Homo sapiens: one gene and its partners. The protein of the gene in region 1 purifies or fractionates together with the protein of each later gene. This does not show direct contact. Each region holds a gene or a part of one and is shown in the gene's direction. Other genes may lie near its edges.

What was found.
Region 2: the proteins of B3GNT3 (region 1) and DCAF6 purify together in Homo sapiens (affinity purification with mass spectrometry; one large-scale study listed by BioGRID and IntAct). This does not show direct contact.
Region 3: the proteins of B3GNT3 (region 1) and HS6ST1 purify together in Homo sapiens (affinity purification with mass spectrometry; 3 studies listed by BioGRID and IntAct, with this or other methods). This does not show direct contact.
Region 4: the proteins of B3GNT3 (region 1) and DSTYK purify together in Homo sapiens (affinity purification with mass spectrometry, with the first as the bait; one large-scale study listed by BioGRID). This does not show direct contact.
Region 5: the proteins of B3GNT3 (region 1) and SPG7 purify together in Homo sapiens (affinity purification with mass spectrometry; one large-scale study listed by BioGRID and IntAct). This does not show direct contact.
Region 6: the proteins of B3GNT3 (region 1) and CHID1 purify together in Homo sapiens (affinity purification with mass spectrometry; one large-scale study listed by BioGRID and IntAct). This does not show direct contact.
Region 7: the proteins of B3GNT3 (region 1) and POGLUT2 purify together in Homo sapiens (affinity purification with mass spectrometry; 2 studies listed by BioGRID and IntAct, with this or other methods). This does not show direct contact.

The regions. Positions count from the first base shown.
Region 1 is NC_000019.10:17,793,907-17,797,937, forward strand, and holds the start of B3GNT3 (N-acetyllactosaminide beta-1,3-N-acetylglucosaminyltransferase 3), read left to right. Parts: upstream 1-1,231; 5' UTR 1,232-1,300; exon of another isoform or gene 1,301-4,009; intron 4,010-4,031. UniProt on the Homo sapiens protein: Beta-1,3-N-acetylglucosaminyltransferase involved in the synthesis of poly-N-acetyllactosamine. Has activity for type 2 oligosaccharides.
Region 2 is NC_000001.11:168,048,183-168,051,682, forward strand, and holds part of DCAF6 (DDB1- and CUL4-associated factor 6), read left to right. Parts: intron 1-2,709; coding exon 2,710-2,751; intron 2,752-3,500. UniProt on the Homo sapiens protein: Ligand-dependent coactivator of nuclear receptors. Enhance transcriptional activity of the nuclear receptors NR3C1 and AR. May function as a substrate receptor for CUL4-DDB1 E3 ubiquitin-protein ligase complex.
Region 3 is NC_000002.12:128,308,869-128,312,368, reverse strand, and holds part of HS6ST1 (heparan-sulfate 6-O-sulfotransferase 1), read left to right. Parts: intron 1-3,500. UniProt on the Homo sapiens protein: 6-O-sulfation enzyme which catalyzes the transfer of sulfate from 3'-phosphoadenosine 5'-phosphosulfate (PAPS) to position 6 of the N-sulfoglucosamine residue (GlcNS) of heparan sulfate.
Region 4 is NC_000001.11:205,159,703-205,163,202, reverse strand, and holds part of DSTYK (dual serine/threonine and tyrosine protein kinase), read left to right. Parts: intron 1-196; coding exon 197-280; intron 281-990; coding exon 991-1,167; intron 1,168-1,815; coding exon 1,816-1,945; intron 1,946-2,932; coding exon 2,933-3,089; intron 3,090-3,500. UniProt on the Homo sapiens protein: Acts as a positive regulator of ERK phosphorylation downstream of fibroblast growth factor-receptor activation. Involved in the regulation of both caspase-dependent apoptosis and caspase-independent cell death.
Region 5 is NC_000016.10:89,553,403-89,555,834, forward strand, and holds part of SPG7 (mitochondrial inner membrane m-AAA protease component paraplegin isoform 1 precursor), read left to right. Parts: intron 1-391; coding exon 392-558; intron 559-1,083; coding exon 1,084-1,161; intron 1,162-2,432. UniProt on the Homo sapiens protein: Catalytic component of the m-AAA protease, a protease that plays a key role in proteostasis of inner mitochondrial membrane proteins, and which is essential for axonal and neuron development.
Region 6 is NC_000011.10:897,311-900,810, reverse strand, and holds part of CHID1 (chitinase domain-containing protein 1 isoform a precursor), read left to right. Parts: intron 1-700; coding exon 701-807; intron 808-1,409; coding exon 1,410-1,471; intron 1,472-3,500.
Region 7 is NC_000013.11:102,788,977-102,792,476, reverse strand, and holds part of POGLUT2 (protein O-glucosyltransferase 2 isoform 1 precursor), read left to right. Parts: intron 1-340; exon of another isoform or gene 341-468; coding exon of another isoform or gene 469-483; intron 484-1,046; coding exon 1,047-1,219; intron 1,220-1,338; coding exon 1,339-1,576; intron 1,577-3,255; coding exon 3,256-3,465; intron 3,466-3,500. UniProt on the Homo sapiens protein: Protein glucosyltransferase that catalyzes the transfer of glucose from UDP-glucose to a serine residue within the consensus sequence peptide C-X-N-T-X-G-S-F-X-C. Can also catalyze the transfer of xylose from UDP-xylose but less efficiently.

The DNA.
Region 1 (4,031 bases):
AGGCACAGACAGGCCACATATACACCTCGGCTTCCTCCTCGGGAAGAAACAGGGATGAAGGAGGAAGGAGGGGTTTCCTGAAACCATAGCCCAGCTCACACACCTGGACTTCCCCAACCCCAGAGCTCCCAACGCTGGGTCCAGGCTAGAATCTCCTAGAGATTCAGAGGCAGCACAGGGCAGGGTTCGAATCCTAGCCAACCCAACCCTAAAAATCTACAAATCTGAGGCCAGGTGCAGTGGCTCACATCTATAATCCAGCACCTTGGGGATCTGAGGCAGGAAGGTCACTTGAGGCCCACAGTTAAGACCAGCCTGGGCAACATATCAAAACCCCATATCTAGAAAAATGACAAAAATTAGCCAGGCATGCTGGCGGGTGCCTGTAGTCCCAGCTACTCGGGAGGCTGAGGTGGGAGGATTGCTTGAACTGGGGAGGTCGACATTGTAGCGAGCGGAGATCACACCACTGTACTCTAGCCTGGGTGACAAAGCGAGATCCTGTCTCTCAAAACAAGAAAAAAAGAAAAAGAAAAGACTACAAATCTGTCTGATTGTTGACTTCCAGAACCCTTCCAAATGCCAGCAGGTGGCATCTGGATGTCTGGGGGCACATCGTAGGTTTTCGGGTCCTGGAATTATTTTCAATATAGAGATGGAATCTCACTATGTTGCCCAGGCTGGTCTCAAACTCCTGGGTTCCAGCGATCCGCCCCCCTCGGCCTCTGGAAGTACAGGAGTGAGCCACTGCGCCGACCCCAGCTTCAGGAATCTTTGAACTCCCCGCAGAGAGCAGAGGTGCCGCAAGGTTTAACCTGCCTCCCTCCCTCCTTATCGCCATGGGCTTATCCAATCATTTCTTCACGGAACACACGTGGGCCAACGCTGACCGGGCTCTGTGCCAGGAACCCGCAAGGCGCTGCTTGTTCATCTCCAGCCACGGGGAGCTCATTCCCTAGCAGCGGGCCAGACCCAAGGTGGGGTCGTGAGCCCCGAGAGGGGCGAGGGTGGCAAGAGCGGGATGGCAGAGGTGGCAGCCGGGACCGGAGAGGGGAAGAGGCATGGCCGGGGAGGGAGGAGCCGGCAGAGAACTTCGCCTGGGCCACCAGGAAACTCAGCCGAGCTGGGAAGAGGGGGACTGGCAAGCGGCCAAGGCGGAGGGAGGCAGGAAGGCGTGAGGCCCGGTGGGAGGGAGGAAGCGGGAGAGGGGCGGGAGCTCTGGCTCAGGTAAAAACTCTTTCTTCGGCTCGCGAGCTGAGAGGAGCAGGTAGAGGGGCAGAGGCGGGACTGTCGTCTGGGGGTGAGTGTCGGCAGCCCCCGGAGGATCTGGCGGACCCCAGTGGTGGGGGTTTGGGGGTGGGGAAGTTGTGGCTCTGGAGAAGCCCCTGCCGGTCTCCACCGCGCATACCCTGCAGATGTGGGAACATTCGGGAGCCCCGAGTCTCGAGAACCCGGTTGCCCTCACCCATCCGTAATTGTCTCCGGCGTTCCCAAGGCCAGCTCGGACCTGGGTCGGGGAGGAAGCCTCCCCCACAGCTGGCGACCCGGGACCCCGGCGCCCCTCCCAGATTGGGCGGGATCAGACCCCCGAGGCGGATGCCGCTTAGTCAGACTTGGCTGTTACTGTTACCTGTGTTGTTGAGATTATTGGCCCCTTGGTTGGGAGTATCTGGGCAAGCCAGCGCTGGGGTCCCCGGTTGGGTTTGGGAACTGCAGGTGACCCCCAGTCTCTCCCTGCGGTTCCGGTGCTGCAGGCCCTGCCAGGTGGCTGGGCGGCATTCCAGGGGCCCTGGCTGCGTGGCATGGACACATTGCTGAACCGGCCTCAGTTTCCCCTCCGTGAGGTGGAACAATGAACCAGCTGGGATGAGGATGCCCGAAGCGTTTAGTCAAAGGAAATTTTTGTGATGAGGTGTACTGCTGGCCACTGGGGGCCCTTGCGTGACTGGCGTTAGGTCTCTGAGCCTCAGTTTCCCTGTGTGTTAAGGGGGGGTCTCATGGCATGGGACCTTGGCGAGGATGAGTTGAGTGGATAGGAGCTGTGGCCACTCAGTGGGTGCCCAGGGACAGTCAGCTGTCATCATAATTATATTAATTATGTCTGTAGCCACTGTTCAGATTCACTCCTGTTCCAAGAATCCCGACCATCTTTTCCTCTGGGTCAGATTTAAACTTTTTGTTTGTTTGTTTTATTTGTAGAGGTGGGGGACTCACTTTGTCACCCAGGCTGGAGTACAGTGGCTCCATGCACTGTATTCACTGCAGCCTCAACCTCCTGGGCTCAAGTGATCCTCCCACCTCAGCCTCCCGAGTAGCTGGGACTACAGGTGCACACCACAGGCAGCTAATTTTAAAATTTTTTTGTGTGTGGAGACGGGGTCTCACTATGTTGTCCAGGCTGGTCTCAAACTCCTGGGCCCAAGCAATCCTCCTGCCTTGGCATCTGAAAGTGCTGGGATTTCAGGCATGAGCCACTATGCCCAGCTCTGATTTTTTTAAATGGACACTTCTCAAGAGGAAACTGAGGTCGCCCCTCAACTTGGGCGGGGGACTCCTGCAGTCCAGATCTGGGATTCAGGGCCCATGGGAAGCCACCTGGCCGTCTAGGTCTGGGGCCAGCCCTGGGGGCCATCACTTCCTCCCACTGGCCTGTTCTCAAGGTGACACCAGGCAGGGCTGGTGTCAGGAGGAAGAGGTGTGGCCCCCAGGTCAGGCAGCTGGGCCCCCATATGGCCTAGGTGAGCAGTTGGGTGTTTGCTCAGTCCAGCCTGGACACCCTCCCTCACTCTCACCCCTAGGGTGTGGCATTTCCTGGCAGGTGCTCTGGGTGTGGGAGAACCAAAAGGGGGCCTTGGTGCTTCTCTGTTCCAGGCCAGAGTTCAGGAATCCAGACAAGCCAGGTCAGCCCAGGAGGAGCAAGTAAGGGCTCACTGAGTGACATTTCCTCCTGCCACCAGCCTCTGAGGCCCAGAGCAAGCAGGAATTTGCTCACTCCCCCAACCCCATGAGCCAGGGAGGATGCCTATTGTGGACCCTCTTCCTGGTGGGAATCTGGCTTGCCTTGATTGCTCCTCATGATGGTGAGGTCACTACCAACGTGGCAAACTAAAGGAAATCTCATCAGCTGGGAGTTAAAGACAGGAACTAGGCTCCCACCCAACCTTTCTTAGGTGGATTTCTAGGCCTCTCTGTGCCTCAATTTTCCTATCCATAAAAATGGAGCTAATGCAGCCCTACTTCTCAGCACACATATAGAGTTTAGATGGACAGATGGTGGCCAGGCTGCACACAGGACCTGGCATATTGATCCTAGTCCTAATTATGCAGCTCATTATGTTATCATTTATAGCATGTATCTTTGCACACAGAAATAATATCATGAATATTTCTGAGCTCTAAGTACAAGACTTGGAGAAGAGCTCTGACCAGCCTGAAGGTGTGGGGGTCCAGGAAGTCCCCAGAGGAGGGGCCCAGGAGACCTCAGTTCCCCCATCACTCCTGGATTGTGGGAAGGGTCTGAGGTTGAACTGCGATGCACGGCCTGGCTTCCCAGCCTGTTTCCCCATCTATGGAGTGAGCCCAAAGATGCCCTTTGAGACTCCACTGGGCCAGGGCTGGTGTTATTCAGGGGCCCCTTTCCAGTCTCACATAGGTGCCCCAGGCAGTTCCTGCAATGGGGTAGGGCTGGCATGGATGACATACAATTAGTCATCCATGACAGAGCCTCGGGACCTAGAAACCCGGGACACCAAAGTCTAAAGTGCATGTGTCACCGTGCCCAACCCCACCCCTTTTTCCATACCCAGGCACTCCCTGGTGCAGATATTGAGTATATATTGACAGAGAACTCACTAGTACACATGGTTTCACTAAAGCAGGGTCCGGCCATTGTGAACTTAAAGGATTTACTGGGCTATTTCTTCTTCTTTTCTTCCCCTTCTGTTTGCAAAAGCAACTCCTGCTCCTTGTAAAAAGGGACCAGCCTATCATTACTGGGAAACCCAAACTGGTAAGAACTGGTGAGGAACCAC
Region 2 (3,500 bases), on another chromosome or scaffold:
GTCCAAGGATACATTGCACACATGGATGAAATGCCCACCTAAAAGGATGTATGTCTTAAAGTTCCCTCCATGCTGCCATTTGCAAAGCCCAGTCAATATTAGTTTAGCTGGGGTAGAGAAGTGGTCCTAAAATTAAATATTATACAAGTGTATACTTAATTTGATCTGTACTTTATATGAAGAACTATATAGTGGACCTCATCAGTTTTTGTTCCAAATTTAATTTTTAAAAGGAAACTTTAAAAGGCTTTATAGCTAAGTCATTTCTGACAAATTTACTGAAAATATCAGAACAGTTCCTTGCAATACAGAGTAATGATTTTTAAAAAAATATTTACATTCTTATAATTTGGTTAAATAAATGACCCAGGTTTTCACTTTTGGGCTGAGATCAAGCATGAGAAGGAAATGTCTTAGAAAATGAAGACCTTAACAACTAACATAGATATTTTTAAATGGAATGCTCTTCTCATTAACTACAGCAAGTCTATGTAAATGTAACTGGGAGTCTATAGCAGAGCAGCAGACTTACTCCTAAAGAGCCATATAGTAAATATTTTGGCTTTGTTGGCCAGGAGACAAAATGGAGACCATTATGGTAGGTACTTATATGACCATTTAAAATATTAACATTTAAAAATGTAAAAACTATTCTTAGCCTAAGGTTCATTTCAAAAATCGGCATTTGGCGGAGATCTAGCCCAAGAGCCATAGCTTGCAAATACCTGCTCTATAGTAATCAGTGTTATAGAGAGAAATCAAACTATAGTCTGTGGTAAAATGCCTCTACTGGCAAAAATCCAGACTTTGAAACAATGAAATAATATGAATCTCCACATATTTGGGTTCCCTTTAACTTTGCGTAAGGCAAGAACATGGAACAGTAAATGGGAAATAAATTGAAAAAAGACAGAAAGAAATGTTTGTTCTCTAATCATGGTGTTTAAAAAAATAAAATTAGTCCTAATGTCAAAAATAAGTCTGACTTAGGAAAAAAGCAAAACAAAGCAAAAAAATAGTATGTGTATCTTTTAGTGATTTTATATACTGTATTTATTTCATTTTGTTTTATTTTTTTGAGACAGGGTCTTGCCCTGTTGCCCAGGCTGGAGTGCAGTGGTATGATCATAGCTCACTGCAACCTCATACTCCTGGGCTCAAGCGATCTTCCTCCCTCAGTCTCCCAAGTAGCTGGGATTACAGGTGCATGTTGCTGCACTCTGCTAATTTGTTGTTGTTGTTGTTGTTGTTTTTTTTTTTTTTTTTTTTTAGAAGAGACAGTCTCACTATGTTGACCAGGCTGGTCTTGAACTCCTGGCCTCAAGCCTCAGCCTCCCAAAGTGCTGGGGGACTATAGGCGTGAGCCACCGCGCCTGGCCATATACTGGGTTAAGAAACGTAAATATATGCCCTTGGAATGAAAAGAGTGTGGTTGAGATCTCTGTTTAGATAATCTGCATATAATTTTTTTTTTTTTTTTTTTTTTTTTTGGAGACGGAGTCTCGCTCCCTCACCCAGGCTGGAGTGCAGTGGGGCAATCTTGGCTCACTGCAAGCTCTGCCTCCCAGGTTCACGCCATTCTCCTGCCTCAGCCTCCCAAGTAGCTGGGACTACAGGCGCCTGCCACCACGCCCAGCTAATTTTTTGTATTTTTAGTAGATACGGGGTTTCACCGTGTTAGCCAGGATGATCTCGATCTCCTGACCTCGTGATCCGCCTGCCTCAGCCTCCCAAAGTGCTGGGATTACCGGCATGAGCCACCGCACCCAGGCTGTATAATTTTTTTTTTTTTTTACAATGCCAAATCTGTTGTAAGTGATTTGACGGCCTGATTGGTAGCTCTTACTGTTTCTAAACTCAAGAGAAAACCTAAATTACTCTCTGAAAAAAAAAAACAAGCATCTAAGAAAGCTTCCTGAATAAGTCCTCACATAGTCTTGAATAGTTTTTAATTATAGCCTCAGTTAGGATGATCTAACAATTTTTTCCCTAAAGAGTGATTTATCCTATATTGCCCTTTAATAACTTTTAAAGTGTTATTTTCATAGAAATTTGGTTCCATATACCTACTCTGGACCATGGAGCATAGCCCTCACTTTTAAAGCCAAAATTCCTTGTACTGTAAATTTGGCAGCATTTATTCAGTCATCATTGTAACCATGATTTCCTTATTTCTCATTATTGCAGTTTACTCTTTATTAAAGAAAATTGCAGAGAGAAAAGATGTACTCAAAGAGAAAGAACTGGACTCCTAGGGAGTTAAAAGCCCTGTTATTCTTTGCTCATTTGTTATATAGTCTTGTGGTTAGGCCAAGTGAATTAGCTTAGGGCTTAATTATTTATTTTCCAAAGAGCTCCTCAGCTTTGAGGAGCATGTACGTGTTCCAGAGGATGGTATTCATTATAAGCCAGTGCAGTTTCCCATACTGTGACAGGATTGGGTTCTGATTTATTTAAAAGATAAAAGGGATTAAGTGCAATGTCTTCCTTCTATTCTAGCTTCAATGAGTGTTTCTGTTTCCTTAATTTCTTCATATACATTTAGTTGACTGACATATTCCTTGCTTAATGCCCGAAGTCACAAAGGGAAACAAAAGTTTTTTTTTAAATTGAGATGATTGATGATAAAAAGGGTGTCCTTAATGCTTTAAATATTTGGTTCTTTGAAGTCTTTGTAAGTGATTTCAGTTATTGTGTTCCCTTCACTAGATTTAATATCAGAGGAACAACAATAGGTGATAGAATAATGAGGTAATTCAGTATGTTCCTTCATAATTTTTTTTTTATGATGGATTTGCCAGGTCTTCTTTTGCCACAGCTAACCACCTTTCCTATTAACAGTTAATACTCCCTTTGGACTTACTGAATTCTAAGTGCTAAGCATTGTAAAGCAGGTCGCTTTCCACAAACTATATTTAGCTGCATGCACTGCATGGGGATAGAATGAAAAGAAATTTCCTGTGTGCAGACTGATGTTCACTTCAAATATGTCATATGGCAAAGTAACTATAATCTGAAATGATGTACTTTAAGTATCAGTTACTCTTTTTGGATATTTTGTTGAAGAATGCAATTTATGTTTTTTAAATTTGATTGGGATAACAATTACCAACTTTTTGTTATTCGTATATGCTCCTTTTCCTTGAGCTCAATAACTAAAAATGTACTTGAATCTAAATCTGTGTATAGGTTTCTGATTTTTGCAAGAAAGTTGTTTCCTTATAAATAGTTTAGAAATAGTGTCACATATCAAGATGATATATAAGCCTCAAGCACTTCTCTATTTGGGACATATTTTTGAGTAGATCTTTAAAGTGAACCTCAATGACATCAGTCACCTACTGAAAACCTGTTTTGCTGACAAAATCAACCTTGTACTTAACTCTAGAGGCATATATCTGTTATTTACCATCAGTTTCTAAAACAGTTGAACATGAAACATATAGCAACAATCAGAAATGTAAAGTTTGTAGAGTTCCTAATGAAAAATACAGAAGTCA
Region 3 (3,500 bases), on another chromosome or scaffold:
AGACAAGTATATGAAGAGCAGCCCCATTTTCCACACAAGGAAGTCAGGCCCCAGAGAAGGTGGAGAATGTGTCAGTCCCTCAGCCTGGAGGGCCAGGAGCTAGCATGTGGACATCTGTCTGTCTGTCCTGAAGGCTGTATGCCGCACCCAGCCCTCTGCTCCCAGCAACCCCTGCATGCGCATGGAAGGCTGTCTGCAGGTGGGGGCGATTGCCGCTGGCCCAGACCAGCCAGATGTAGAACACTAGGGCTTCTGAGACCTGGGCAGACATGGGCAGTTTCACATGTAGGCCTGTGTCGTTGCGTTTACTGGAAGACACCTGGCAGCCTTCACTCAGAGCAGAAGGACAGGCATCATGCCTGGGCTCTGGGCTCTGCAAAGGTAGTGCTGGCAAGGCTGCCTGAGAGTCGGCCCCTGGCAGCAGAGACTGCCCATGGCGGTGCTTGGCTCCTGGCGCAGTGTGGCCACCCCTTCTGCCACCTCCCCCATAAGATTGGGCTGTTTTCAGGTACTCCTCTGGTCCTGCACCACCGATGCCACCACCGGCCCAGGGAGGATCAGCCCTGCAGGAGGCAGTGCTGTGAGCCTGTGTGGGTGCAGGTGGGTCTAGGCCATCCCTCTGCTCCAGTGTCCTTGCTCTGCCCCAGTGAATGCTGGAGGGTGAGGAGATGGGAAACCCAGGAGTCTCCCCAACCCCTCAGCTTCCCTCTCTGGGTGCCATCACCATCCCATGTGGCATTTTGTGGGGCTGCATACCCCCTCTATGAAAGACTGTGGGGTGTTTCTAGGTCAGACCTCAAGCATCACGGAGGCAGCAGGACTGGGCTCAATCCCCACTTGGTGGTAGCGTGTGGTGGGTCTTTGGGTTTGAGGCGGGAAGAGCATGAGAAGCCGAGCTCTGGGGAGCAGTTACTGAGTGGTAGCATGTGGGGCCCAGTCAGATGGGAGCCCCACTGGAAGGGCTGCATGATTCAGGCGGGAGGCAGACTCGGGCCATCCCCTGCCAGCACTTTTCGGGCACTTCTCTGCAGCCACCTGGACACTCACTGGCACCTGCTCTCCTCTCCTTGAGGCCCACTCCACAGCAGTATTTATAGGTGAGGTGACATTTTGTTTGCAAGAAGGTTTTCATCTCTTAAGACTGTTCTTGCCTTCTCAGAAACTCAGTTGGCTCTGTGAAGATTTGCTGTCTGTTTTGGGTTTGGGTGGGGTATGTTATGCTGAAAAAAATAGTCCTAGACCTAGGGGATGAGGTTGCTCCAGCCAAATGACAGTGAGCTGGTGGTAGCCAGAGGTGTGGGCTGCAGTGCCCTGAGGGAGTGGAAAAGCCTCCCACACACAGGGTTTTGCAGGATGAGCGGGGTGTGGAGTGGAAGCAGCACTCAGAAAGCACAGTTGGGTTTCAGACACATCATGCGAGACCCCGCCACTCACAGCAAGGGGGGGCAGTGGAGATGGGACGGCATGAGTGGAGAGGGGCCCCTGCAAGCAGGCCAGTTGCTTTCTGACTGTGGGACTTGTGGCCTAATCTCTTTGTTCCTTTCCTGAAAGTGCCCCTTTCCTGATAGGGCATTGTCCCAAGTCCCCAGCTTGCAAGGGATGTTGTTTTGGAAAAACATGGCAGGTACACGCCCACACAGGAGTGTTCAAGTGCTGATCCCAGACCACCCAACCCAGGGTGGAGGCTGTTAGAGGACATTTAGGATCCACAGGTGGGCAGAGGGAGGATGTCCAGCCACCAGAGACCACACACATCCTACCCCAGCCGTGGTGAAGATGGGGCTGTTTTCCTTGACCATGGAGCAAAAACCATCCAGGACAGCTCTCCCCCTCCATGCCACCAGTTGCTCCTGAGCCAGCTCTGTGGGTGCTGGGAGCTGCGCTAAGGATTTGCACCTGTCCCCACCAGCTTGTGGCCTTCTGCTGCCGCGGTGCCTCTGCCCTGAACTCCCTCTAGGGCTCAGGACCTTTGGGGCCTCACACCTACCCCACTGTTGGTCCTTGATTCCTTGACTCACACAGCGTGTGGTCTGGGGCTGGGGCTGGGGCCCAGCTCACTGCGGGGGGATGCCTGTGGGGGTGACACGCCGCAAGTTCCACGGGGCCACCTCGGGAGGTCTTGGGTCCTCTCTGTGCAGACCAGGCGCTGAGGCTGCGGTGGAGGGCAGGGAATCCATAGGGATTCAGCTGCCTGCTCAGGCCCTGGGCTGTGTGTTGGGTGGGCTTCTGGAAAGCTCTGCTGGGAGTCCAAGGAAGAGAGGAGTGCCCTGGGCAGCCCCTCCTACCTTGTGGCTGGAGCCGGTGGGTCTCATGGGCCCAGATAGATACCTGTCTGAGCCTCAGTCTTCCCATCTCTAAAAGGGGGGTGGCAGTCTGCCATTTGGTTCTGTAGAGGAACCAGTGACTTATTAACTGTGACCGTGGTGACCGCATGATCCCTCAGCCACGGACTGTGTCCATGTCTTATGGGAGCCATGGCCACTCATAACCCCTTAGCATTCTGCAGCCTAGTGCAGGCCCAGTTCCTCATCTGGAGAGCGAGCCGTCAGCAGCTGTCCGCGTGCCATGGGGAGACTGACCGCGGGGCCAGGGCTTCAGTGAGAGGCAGCTCCCGACAGCCTGCACCTGGCCTGCCTTTGAAGGCCACACGTGACCAGCACAGCTGCCTAGGATTATTTACACAGAGAACGTTAAAAGGCCCAACAGGAGGGCCATCAGAGCAAATCACTAATTGTCTGGAAAGATACAAACTGGAGAGATTGAAACTCTGGAGTTAATTGTTTACGAAGCTTTGAAGGCCACAGAGGTCAGTGGCCGTGGGTGACCGCCCCCGGTGGTCATGGGCAGGGGCAGGGGCCTGTTATCTCCCTGTGACAGGGCCTCCTGCTGGGGCAGGCCTGGTCCTTGTCCAGGATCCCAGCTGTTCCCTAGGAGGGGCTCTCCACTGGTCAGCCCAGGCCGCTGCTCAGAAGCTGTATCAGGTGGACATCTCTGGGGCCAGCCCAGTTTGCATTCTAGCTCTGGCCCCATTCCTGCCTGGAGAAGTTGGGAACATTCAACCTCATTTTCTTTTCCCACCTCACGGAGTGGTAGGAGATGAGAGTTCACTCTGTAAGCTCCACACTATCCTTCACCCTCCACAGCAAACTAGGACAGAAGGTTCTATGGGTAACCCAGCAACAAGGAGGGCAGGTGAGGCTGGCCAAGACCCACCTCGGGGCTGGGAAACCCCGGGACCATACCAGGGGTGTCAGCAGAGCAAAAGAGAGGCCCCAGGCTTGCAGTCAGACCAGCTGGGCCAAATCCTGGCTTTGCATCTCACAGGCTTCTGCAGCTCAGGTTCCCCATCTGTAAAATGGGCATACTCATAGTGCCTGTGCAGGAGGTAGACAGTTGGAATTATACCCACAGTTCCACTGTGGCCTCTGTACTATAAGAGGCTAGAATCTGACCCATCTGTCCTGGAGACAGGGAAGAGACCTCCAGAGCCAGCTAGGAAG
Region 4 (3,500 bases), on another chromosome or scaffold:
GAATATAAAGATGAGGTAGAAGGGGCTAGATAGTCACAAAATAAATAATCAGCTTAAGTTGACTCTGCATATATATTGAGGGGTAAGTTTGGAAACCCTGAGTCTGGACTGTGTTCTTGAAATAAGTATCATTTATTGCATTTTTAAAATAGCCACACTACTGAGGACATGTTTTCTTTGGCGTTGTCTCTTTCAGATCTTAAATGCTGCCTATCATGTTGAAGTCACGTTTCACTCAGGGTCGTCAGTTACAAGGATGCTATGGGAGCAAATCAAACAGGTAGGGATTATTACTTAGAGAAAGATTTCAAAGCCCCTAGTTGGCTCAAATGAATCATAGTGACCCCAGTAGGAAACAGATATCTAGGATCTTCTGTTAAGGCAGGGTGACCATTTGTTCTGGTTTGCCTGCCTGGGAGAATTCTGGTTTATGCCTATTCTTAAATAATTATTAACATTGTTCCCTTGAACTCTCAGAAGTTTTGGGTTTAAATGATTTTTATGTTGGGTGCTCTTTGTGGACAATGGAAAAATAGAAAAAAAAGATAAATGATATTTCATGGAGCCATAAGACTCTACCACACTAGCTTCTTCATATTTCTTTTTCCCAGCCTAAATCTTTTCTCAGAACTAGGCTTTGTTGTTGCCAGAGGCTGTGAATGTGGTTTCTGTTCTGGAATTTGATCTGGCTCTTATGTAGAGTTATTTACTGACTTCAGAAAGATTATCAGGCACTCCCTGGCACTGAATGTAATATATTGAGGGTTTGTGAGCATGTAGACTAGGCCTGGTGTTCTTTGATGCTTTTCTCTGGGCTAGGACCTGATTTTGTGGTAGATGGAATTGGAAAGGAACTTTGGACTTCGTATGGCTCCCATCTTATGAGCCTGCTCTTAATGAATGGGTAACCCAGAAAAGGAAGGACACTGGATCTTTGTAGTGGTTCTTGTCTCTCATTCCTTGGTGATCTCGCTGTCTTCATCCTGGTAGATCATCCAGCGCATCACATGGGTGAGCCCACCTGCCATCACTCTGGAATGGAAGAGGAAGGTGGCCCAGGAAGCCATTGAGAGCCTCAGCGCCTCCAAATTGGCTAAGAGCATTTGCAGCCAATTCCGGACTCGGCTCAATAGTTCCCACGAGGCTTTTGCAGCCTCCTTGCGGCAGGTTGGTATGTAGGAAAGGAGATACAGCTGGATCAAGCAGAGAAGAGCCTCATCCAGATGGGAATATTTCGCTCTCCGCTCTTCATATATAATATGTGTGTGTGTCTGTGTGTGTATACATATATATACACATATATATACACACACACACATATGTATATTAAAATCATCAGTATATTTTCTTTCTAGATTGTTATAGGAAGTTTTTTCAATAAATTTTTCATGTGGATATTTTCCTAACTCTCGGGAGAATGGAGTGAGCTCAGTTAATTCCTGCCCATTTCAGAGTGAGGAAAGATAATAGGAGTAGGAATTTTGTATGTTTATATAGTATTTTAGGAACAAATGACAGAAGGACATGACTTTCCAACTTCTATATTTCATAATTGTTTGACATCTGATTGTCCACTGGCGGGGAGTGGGTGTGTCCAGGCAGAGAGTGGATAGATGTGAGTATGCATCCAGGAGGAAAAGTTATTATTTATTGAGAGTCTACTCTGTGCCAGTCTCTGTGCTAAACATGTTACATGTATCTTGTTTAATTCTCACAATTATCTATATGAAGTAGATATTATTATCCCTGTATAACAGGTGAGGAAGCTGAAGCTAGGGACTTAAGTCATATGTACTTTTTCTGTTTCTCTCCCAGCTGGAAGCTGGCCACTCAGGCCGGTTAGAGAAAACGGAAGATCTATGGCTGAGGGTTCGGAAAGATCATGCTCCCCGCCTGGCCCGCCTTTCTCTGGAAAGCTGTTCTTTACAGGATGTCTTGCTTCATCGTGAGTCTGGTTTTCTTCTAGATAAACTGGAGGATGGTTCAGGATACCTGACATTCTTATGTCCAGCCTCAGAGAATCCTAGTGTCTAAAGCTGCTTCTTTGCAAAGCTGCCTAAACCCTTACTGATGTTTTTGAATTCCTAAAGTCTCTTCCTGCTATTTATATAGTTCAAATAACATGACCAGGCCAGGTGTGGTGGCTCACACCTGTAATCTTAGTACTTTGGGAGGCTGAGGTGGGTGGACTGCCTGAGCTCAGAAGTTCAAGACCAGCCTAGGCGATATGGCAAGACCCCATCTCTACTAAAAAAATTAGCTGGGCGTGGTGGCACTTTGCAACCCCAGCTCCTCAGGAGGCTCAGGCAGAAGATTCACTTGAACCCAGGAAGTAGAGGTTGCAGTGAGCCAAGATCATACCACTGCACTGCAGCCTGGGTGACAGAGCAAGACTCTGTCTCCAAAAAAAAAAACAACAAAAAACAAAAAACCACATAACCACAGTTTATTTGAATTAAACCAGTTAGATTATTTTCTATTGGGTTAGAATGACACTAGAATTTTATCCCTGGGCTTGATTACAGCTTCCTGACCCTAAAGGCAGGTTCACAATGAAGAATGTTACAGGGCCAGCATGGTGGCTTATGCCTGTAATCCCAGTACTTTGGGAGGCCACGGTGGGTGGATCACTTGAGCCCAGGAGTTCGGGACCACCCTGGGCAATGTGGCAAAACCCCGTCTCTAATAAAACTGTAAAAATTAGCTGTGCGTGGTGGCGTATGCCTGTAATCCCAACTACTTGGGAGCCTGAGGCAGAATAATCGCTTGAACCCAGGAGGCAGAGGTTGCAGTGAGCAGAGATCATGCCACTGCACTCCTGCTTGGGTGACAGAACAAGACTCTGTCTCAAAAAAAAAAAAAAAGAATCTTACAGAGGTTGCCCACGAAGTTCCCATTCCTCCTGCCTTATCTCTGTCTCTGTACCTTATAGGTAAACCTAAACTGGGACAGGAACTGGGCCGGGGCCAGTATGGTGTGGTATACCTGTGTGACAACTGGGGAGGACACTTCCCTTGTGCCCTCAAATCAGTTGTCCCTCCAGATGAGAAGCACTGGAATGATCTGGCTTTGGAATTTCACTATATGAGGTGGGTCCTGGCCTCATTCATCTCTATGAGAAAGATCCAGAGAAGAATCTAGAACCCTGGTTTAGATTTTGTACCAAGAGCTACAGCATGGCCTCTCTATATTTAGTTTTCTGTGTCTAACAGACATGTGCTCCCTTTCAGGCCTTTACTGTCTTTGCTTGCTCTTTCCCCACCATCCTAATTTCTCAGACTCATCATTCCATTTAACTTTCTTCTTTAGTCCTTAAGCCTTATCAGTTTTTAGAATCCAGGATTCTTCATCCTTGTTGAAGAGGCCATGCTCTGTCTGTACTGAGGGCTCTGTCTGCACTGAGGGCCATTACCTCTGGACCTGTCCTAAGCATGGTCTGGAAATTATTGTCTCATACATTGTGGCATGGCATGCAGGATTAGAGCCCAAGCCTTGTAGCC
Region 5 (2,432 bases), on another chromosome or scaffold:
TAAAATTGAAGCGGCTTCATTGTTCTGAAGCCATTACTGCACTGGGATATCCAGAGAGCTGAAGGAGGGTCCCGGGGGCCCCTGGGCTCCAGGTCCATGGGTTTGCCTCGCATAGGCCTGGGCTTGTGCTTGAGAACTGCCATGCAGTGAGCTCCAGTATGCCCCCGGGTTCTAGATTTCCAAATAAAAGAGCATTTCGGAAAGTTTTAAGACTCTCTTAAGGAACAGTGGTGAGGTGCCAACGTCCTCACTGTCCAGCTTCACGGTGGGTCCTCGGGAGGAAGGGGATGGAGGTGGTGCTGCCTCAGTGCTCTGACCGGGACACCTGGGGCCCAGCACTGCTCTGCGCCTGCAGTGCTGAGGATGCCTCTGTCTCGACCCCGCCCTCCAGGGGCACAGGACGACCTGAGGAAGGTCACCCGCATCGCCTACTCCATGGTGAAGCAGTTTGGGATGGCACCTGGCATCGGGCCCATCTCCTTCCCTGAGGCGCAGGAGGGCCTCATGGGCATCGGGCGGCGCCCCTTCAGCCAAGGCCTGCAGCAGATGATGGACCATGTGAGTCGGCTCTGGCCACACCGCTGCCCTCTGTGCTCCCCGGGGAGGGAGTCCCTGGGTCTACCACACAAGGGTCGCCCACGGCCGCCCCAGCGGAGCTCAGCTGCAGGCCCCACCTGGGTTTCTTCCTTCTGGGCTCTGCTGTAGTTCCCACCTGTGGAGTATTTTCTTCTCAAATGAGGACATAGATGCTCCTAATGAAATTATAGATGTGAATCTGGGAAGAATATCAAATAAATACACCGAGCAATAGACCCAGGGCCCACATGTCCTTCAGACTGGGCCAGGAAGGGCCGATGTGTGCCTGTGAGGCAGCTGTGGGTGGGTGTGGGTGGGTGGGCTGGCATGCGGAGCCCTGCTTTCCTGGCACTGGTCACAGGGGCAGGAGACCACCTGTCGGCTGAGGAGTCCTGTTCCTCCTGGGAGGGGAAAGGCCGTGTTCCCAGTCTGCCATTTCTTTTCTGTGCTTTGGTGCTGGAGCCAGGCGGCCAGCCTTGCCCCTGACACAGTTCCCTCCACTCACAGGAAGCAAGACTGCTGGTGGCCAAGGCCTACAGACACACCGAGAAGGTGCTGCAGGACAACCTGGACAAGTTGCAGGCGGTGAGGCCCTGGCCAGGCGTGGGGGCTACGGCGTCACACAGTGTCCACACAGCACCCACGGTCCCCACCCCTCTCGTGAAGTATTTCCAAGGCACACAGAGTACAGAGAACACTCTGACCGATGTGAATTCTACCCAGCTCAACTGAAACTTACGTGTTCCATACTTTTTATCCTGAACTCGTCAAGTGTGTTCCCCCGAGGTAGAAAGAAGGCTGCCACAGTCTCCTGTGCCTCTTCCTGCCATTAGCAATTACCAATGTTTTGTCAGTTTTGTTTAATCTTTTCCCAAGTCTTACACTTTTTTCTTGAACATTTTTTTAAAACAAAGCTTTAATTTTAGAGTAGGAATTTTTTTTTCTTTTTTTTTTTGAGACAAAGTCTTGCTCTGTCACCCAGGCTGGAGTGCGATGGCGACATCTTGGCTCACTGCAACCTCTGCCTCCCGGGTTCCAGTGATTCTCCTGCCTCAGCCTCCCGAGTAGCTGCGACTGCAGGCATGCACCAACACACTCGGCTTTTCTTTTTTTTTTTTTTTTGAGATGGAGTCTCTCTCTGTCACGAGGCTGGAGTGCAGTGGTGCAATCTCAGCTTACTGCCACCTCCACCTCCCCAGTTCAAGCATTCTCCTGTCTCAGCCTCCCAAGTGTCTGGGATTACAGGCACGCGTCACCATGCCCAGCTAATTTTTGTATTTTTAGTAGAGGTGGGGTTTTACCACATTGGCCAGGCTGGTCTTGAACTCCTGACCTCAGGTGATCCGCCTGCCTCGGCCTCCCCAAGTGTTGGGATTACAGGCGTGAGCCACAGCCCCACGCTGATTATAGTGTTAGATGTAGAAAAGTTGCAGGCGCGGTGCAGAGAGCTCCCTGCCACCCTGCCTCGCTCCCGTGGAGGCCCCCATGGGGCAGTCCTCCCACCTGAGGAGCCCCCGCCGACCCGCGGTGTTGGGTCCACACGTGATTCAGATGTGCTGAGTCTCCCCAGTGTCCTTTCCGGTCTTGGGAGTCCACATGGCGTTTGATCGCCCATCTTCTTAGGCTCCTCTGGGGTGACAGTTCCTCAGACCTCCCTTGTTTTGAGGGCTCTGGCAGTTTTGAGGATTGGTCTCATGTTTTGTAGGACGTTCCTCAGTTGCGATTGTCTGATGTGTTTCTCACAGTGGGCAGAGCTGGAGTGAACGTTTTTGTCCCTGGGTTTGGTAACTGCTGCTTAGAACTCAGGAGAGGTGCACGGCTCTTTGTCCCATGTTGTGAACAGATGGGTAGGCAGT
Region 6 (3,500 bases), on another chromosome or scaffold:
CCGCTCAGAGATGAGGCTGGCCCTGGCCTGGCATTCACAGCCCTTAGTCTGGCTGGAGTCCTGAGCTCTCCTCCCCACACAGGCTGTGGCCCTCCAAAGCCAGCACCTCCTTGGCCAGTGGCATTGCCCTAATTGTTCTCAATCCCATTTCTTCCTTCATTCACATGATGAGTCCTATCAGGGCAGCTGGGGCCAAGCCCTGGGCTTGGCCTGAGGGTGATGCTGACCCTGGCCCATCTGTGCCCCTGTAGCTCACGGCTGGGGAAGGGGGGACATGTGTCCCCACGTCCAGTAGCAGCCTCAGAGGCAGTGGATTAAGAGCACAAGTTGCCAAGGGAGAGACTCTGGGGGATGCTAGAAGCAGGTGACAGGGCTGAGCTGGAGCAGCCAGAGTCTGTCCCAGCCTCCCTCCTGTAAGGTGGGGCCACAACCATGCTGAGCCGTGTGGGGAGCTGGTGTCAGGGGACCAGGACTGTCAGTGTCTGCTCGCTCCTTCCCCACCACCCCTCCCTCTCCAGCCTGTGAGGCTCTGGGACATCCTCTCTGGACATGTGGGTGCTCCAGGTGGCCTCCCTGCCCCTCACTGTCTGGTCTCACTTCCCTCTGGAGGCCAAGGGGATGCCTTTTTGAGGCAGCAAACAGCAGGGGCCCTCCAGCATCTCCCAGTCACGGCCCCCGTGTGTGTCTGTTGCCCCTGCAGTGCCTCGGCTCCTGTTTGAGGACTGGACTTACGATGATTTCCGGAACGTCTTAGACAGTGAGGATGAGATAGAGGAGCTGAGCAAGACCGTGGTCCAGGTGGCAAAGGTGAGACCTGTGTGCTGCTCCAGCCTCTGAGCACAGCCCCCCGGGTCCCACCTGGCCGTCTGGCTGGGCCTCCCGCGAGGCCTCCACTCGGCTTTTCTGTCTTCTGCCCTGGGCACCTTCTGGTGCAGCCCCCATCTTCCAGGGAAGGCAGCATCAGCCAGGCTCAGGCTGCTGCTCGCTTTCTTGACCATGGGTCCTCTGGAGGTCCCAGGCATGGGAGACCTGTCTGCTGGGCCAGGGTTCTTCCCTTGGGCAAAGCCCAGCTGCCTGCTACCCTCCTGGGAGGGGACCCAGCCCTGCTGGCTGCCAGTATGCCTGGGCCTCGGGTCAGGGAGCCCCCAGACCCCCGGGGTGGGGTTGGGGGAGGTGCATGGGTCGGCAGAATGCACGAGACCACTGGCCCCTCCACTCCTGTTCCTCTGGGACCCCCACACTTCCTCCTTCAGACAGGCCCTTCTGGGCATACAGCCCAGGCTTGGGTCTTGCCTCGTGAGTGACCAGGCCACAACCTGACCATGTGGGCCGAGGTGGCGGGCTTCTTGTCTTTCCACCCATCCCTCCTGGGCCTCCAGGCCCTCCTCACCTGTGACTGCTTCTTTCAGAACCAGCATTTCGATGGCTTCGTGGTGGAGGTCTGGAACCAGCTGCTAAGCCAGAAGCGCGTGTGAGTGGGCACAGGTGGTGGTGGGTGGCCCTCCTCCTGGCCCTGGTGTTTGAAGGAGGCTGGAGGAAAGACCAGGGGTTTGGGGAGGGCCTTCCTTCCACAGTCCCTGTGCCTGGGGTGGGGACGGGGCTGCACAAAAGATGGACACCTGCTCAGAGAAGTGGAAGCAGCCTGTGGCAGGCAGCCGGCTCCGAACAGAAAAGTGGAAGCAGCCTGTGGCAGGCAGCCGGCTCCGAGCGCATTGCTGCGCCAGGCCTGATGCCTCCCTTGGGCGGTCAGAGGAACTCGAGGACCCTCATTCATGAGGTCTTGGCAAGAGAAAGATGGCCCAGATGGTGACAGCAGGTTGAGCTTGGACACAAGCAGAAACTCCTCACTGAGCTTCGGGGAGCCTTCCTGGGGGTGTCCCTGAGCACGGCCAGGACCCGTGGTGTGGACCGCCATGGCGGCCTCTGGGGAATGCCTCCCAGGCCCCCAGGCTTTGTAGCAGTCCACTCCACCGGGAGGCGGCCACAGCACTCCCTCACGCCTCCTTTTGCCACATCAGAGCCCAGCCCACCCATGACCCTCGCGGGTTCCCACTCCCTGTGGGCCACATGACCAGGAACGGAGGGAGTGATAGGAAGTGCCATGGCTCCCCCACCTGGCCTGGACTGGACTGACCACAGCCCTGAGGAATGGCCCTTCCTTGGTCCTGCCCAAGCAGCCCTGCCAACTCACCGAAACAGCTACCTTCCCTGTTCTGCCAAAGTGGGCGACTGCCCCGCAAAAGATAGCAGGGGGACAGTACTGCTCCCCAGGATGTTGGTAGGGGGCGTCCTCGACATGCTCAGGACAGGTGGACTCCTCTCACTCCACTGGTTGCAACGAGCGAGGATGGTGCGGTCTCCACCGCGGGTGCCTGGACAGCAGAGCCCTATGGCAGCTGTCCAGCCCTTCAGCCTTCTGTGTGAGCCGTGGGTTCTGGAATCGGCTCCCCCGCCCCCACCACCTGAAGTAGTTCTGGTTGGGCTTTAAGAGCCCGGGCCTGAGCTCAGGCTGCATGGTGTCCCCTGCAGCAGCCATGGCACTTTCATCCCATTGCTGCTGTGGGCAAAGGAGCTGCAGGTCCAGGCTCTGCCCACCTGGGGCAGCGTCCCCACACAGATCTTAAGCTTGAGGGAGGGAAGGGACATTGTTGAGGCAGAGCCCATGAGGGGTAGGGCAGGATTCCTGCCCAGGGGCTCAGAGGACCCTCAGCCTGGAGCCGGTACAGGCCCTGCCCCTGTGAGTGGCTCCAGCCTCTGCAGCCCTGCCGCTCCTCCCACTGTGCTCTGAGGGACTCACTGGCTGGGAGGCAGCAGTCCAAGGCTCTTCCCGGAACTGCTCCCAGGCCCCGGCTCCAGAAGAGCCCTGGAGTCCTGTTTCCTGGTGTCCAGACCCCCACACCCTCCGCCAGCACCCCTCAGTGTGGTTCCCCACTGGATCCTGGTGCCCAGATCCCCACACCCTCCGCCAGCACCCCTCAATGTGGTTGCCCACTGGATCCTGGTGCCCAGACCCCACTCCCTCAGCCAGCACCCCTCAGTGTGCCCCCCACCGGATGTGTCCAAGAGGCTCCTCTGTCTGCTTCCCTCCTGGGAGGCCTGGCAGCAGCAGGAAGACAAGGAGCTGTGTGAAGGGAGGCTGGGAGGCGCACTGCAGTGGGGGTAAGGATGTCCGCAAGGCTATGGGGAGCCTGTCGTCTGCACAGCCTCTGAGGGGCCCCAGCTTTGCCGGAGGATCAGGTGCCTGCGTTCCTGGCTGAGGGACAATCCCAGGCCCTGCCTTGGGGGGTTCTTGCTGAGCCGTGGGCAGTGGACCCTGCCGGGGCTGACCTTCCATTACCCTCTGAGGAGAGGGGTGTCTCAGCAGGAGACAGAGCCCGCCTGCTTCCAGCCTTCTCACTAATCCTGGGAGAGTGGGTCTATTAACCAGAGATTTGCCACACTCATTTCCGTTTCAGAGCATTAGGTAGGCAGTGAGATGGCACCAGAGGCTCCTCAGGAGA
Region 7 (3,500 bases), on another chromosome or scaffold:
GACACAATATTTTATAGAGGAAAGAAAAATGCCTTATCATAAAATTATTTTGGTACTAAACTAACTCTGAGTCCAAAGATGACTTGCCTTGTACTGAATCCCATTCCTTGGGATAATGGGCTTTTGTTGGGTTCTAGTGGAATGGTTTGAAAGTAATGTTAAAATGGTGGATGTGAAAGACTCTACCAACATTTTTACCAAATGTATATTTATTTGTAATCTATTATATTTATTTGTTGAATAATTTGCATGTATATCTTGATTAAACTACTCATGGAAAATCATAATGCCTTTTTTTCAAGATTTCAAAGCACTTACAGTCTGTTAATTCTGAATGTAGGTAGTTATATAGCATCAATATTAAGCCTCCTTTAAACTAAGACATCAGAGTACCGTCATACTTCTCTTGCTCCTCTTTGTCAATCCATGGGAAAATGAGAATGTTCTTCAGGACTTCGGTTTCTCAAGATGCTTCTCAGACTGGTCAGTGCTTTTCTGGCCTTAAAAATGTATATCTGTTGTTTTGTAAATACTCTAAACATTTTCTGTGACTAGATAAAACATATCCTCTTTACATATTCATGCCATTTGCCAGTAGAGGAAGGAAGCATAGCTTGAAACTTACTACGTTGCTGTTGGTGTTGGGCTTCCTGAGTTCAAATCCTGGTCCCACCACCTACCTGGTGTATGTTTTTTAAAATGGAACCATCTGGCTCACTAGCAGGAAACTAGGGTTAGAGTCCCAAGTGCTATTTTTTAAATTATTTTCCAATAATTCTCCTTCTCTTTGATCATCTTAGAGGCTGTTCGCAGTATTAGAACAGAGATTACTTTTGCAGTTTCATCCCTTTCATAGGGAGCATAGAATACTTATACATGTGACCATATTCTGAAACATTGCCCACTATTCAAACCAAGGTAATTATTATTACCTGAAACATGTAACATTGGCCTTTCATTAATGCAATTTCAAATTTAAATTGATAAATACAATGTATTATCCAATGCAGGAAATGTGAATAAGCTCCTCGTTTTGTTTTTTCTAGGTGAAGATGCCAGATGTGGAGCTCTTTGTTAATTTGGGAGACTGGCCTTTGGAAAAAAAGAAATCCAATTCAAACATCCATCCGATCTTTTCCTGGTGTGGCTCCACAGATTCCAAGGATATCGTGATGCCTACGTACGATTTGACTGATTCTGTTCTGGAAACCATGGGCCGGTGAGAGATAAGTCAGGGTTGGCCCAGAGCCTTGGTTTTCTTTCTTTGGTGAGTTCTTTTGCAACAACCTTTGTGATATGATGATTTGGGAGGAAAATCTGTTGCACTTTGTCTTCTAGGGTAAGTCTGGATATGATGTCCGTGCAAGCTAACACGGGTCCTCCCTGGGAAAGCAAAAATTCCACTGCCGTCTGGAGAGGGCGAGACAGCCGCAAAGAGAGACTCGAGCTGGTTAAACTCAGTAGAAAACACCCAGAACTCATAGACGCTGCTTTCACCAACTTTTTCTTCTTTAAACACGATGAAAACCTGTATGGTCCCATTGTGAAACATATTTCATTTTTTGATTTCTTCAAGGTATGACTTAATCAGTAGCTAATCTTTTTTGTTTTTCTAATGTATTTGTACATAGTGCTTTGGGAAGGGAAATTAAGGCCTGCAAATTTCAAGAGGTGGGAGAAGTTAGCACAAAATTGAGCGAATATTGAGACATGGGGGTGCTGGGGACTGTTTTGGCAACCAGGGTCTGCCCTCACTGCCCAGTCTTGATATTAAATGCGCATCAAGGGAGTTTGGAGCCTGGATAGAGCTATAATTTTTTTCCAGCTAACCCTTGAGATAAGCACATGTCACCTCCAAATATGTTTTTATTAATACTTACATGTAAGTCATTTTACAAATACTTTTTCCCAGAGCCATGTTATCACAACAGAATAAGGAAGATATAAACTACTTGTTTCTTACCAGGCCTTCTGGTGGGGAATGACGTGAAACTCATCCAAATGTTCTGTCTGGGAATTAGGGTTTGCTTTCTCTGTCTAGAATGTGGATTCCGCATGGTTCCTGGGGAGTAGTCCTTTTTCTAACAACTCCTTTTATAAGGCAGTGGGCACCACCCTGCTCTTTAGACCATGGAGTTGTTTCTGAAGTCCCCCATGGTAGAGAGAGAGGTGGGAAAAAGGTCATCATCTGTCCTCTGTATGTGGGAAGACAAGTGATTAACGAGTTCTGTCTGCCCTGTAGATGACCAAATTTTCTTTTGATGGGTTTTGTTGAGGCAGGTTGACCTAAATGTTAACCTTGTTCAATGTTAAAGTTGAATTGTCAGTATTTTTCTATATGCATATCCCAAAGATTTTTGAAAGAAATGATTATAACCAAAGTGAAAGGATACTAGCCAACCTTCCTCAGTGGAGGGGTGCTCCATCCTGCCTTGGCTTTATTCCTGCCTGTTGAATTTTCTGCAACTAAAGATGATAGATTACCACAGTTCTATGAATATTTTTATTCATAGGTGTTCTTGCTCCAGAGCTTGCTAATTTCTTTAAGACATATGTCTGGGTGTTTAAAAAATACGGTTAGCCAGGCGTGATGGCTCACGCCTGTAATCCTAGCACTTTGGGAGGCTGAGGCAGGCAGATCACCTGAGTTCCAGGGTTCGAGACCAGCCTGGCCAACATGGTGAAACCGCATCTCTACTAAAAATACAAAAATTAGCTGGGCGTGGTGGTGCGTGCCTCTAATGCCAGCGACTGGGGATGCTGAGGCACAAGAATCACTTGATCCCAGGAGGTGGAAGTTGCAGTGAGCTGAGATCACGCCACTACACTCCAGCCTGAGTGACAGAGCAAGACTCTGTCTCAAAATAAATACATAAATAATACGGTTAACATGGCTCAGAATATGCCATCATTAGGGGCACATTTGCAATCAATAAAGTAGCAGGAGAATTACAAAAAGTCACAAATGAATCCATCCTTCCTTATGTTGCAGCCTTAGGACAGCAGTATGATTGTATTCGCTGCTTCAACACTAGATTTGTATCCTTTGTAAAATTGAGAAGCACATCAAAATGAGCATTTAGCTCTAGATCAACCTGTTGTTTAATAACACTTACTAAACGGCAAAGGCAGAGCGTGGAAGCTGACCAAATTGTGTCTGAGGATTGCAAAGGTTTATGTGTGGGATGGGAAGGAGAATAGAGTGGAGAAAAGGAGATTTAATAGAGGTTCTTAGACTTTACCATTGTTTTGCAGCATAAGTATCAAATAAATATCGATGGCACTGTAGCAGCTTATCGCCTGCCATATTTGCTAGTTGGTGACAGTGTTGTGCTGAAGCAGGATTCCATCTACTATGAACATTTTTACAATGAGCTGCAGCCCTGGAAACACTACATTCCAGTTAAGAGCAACCTGAGCGATCTGCTAGAAAAACTTAAATGGGCGAAAGATCACGATGAAGAGGTAAGGTTAGTCCCCTTGAAGGCTTATTTCCACTT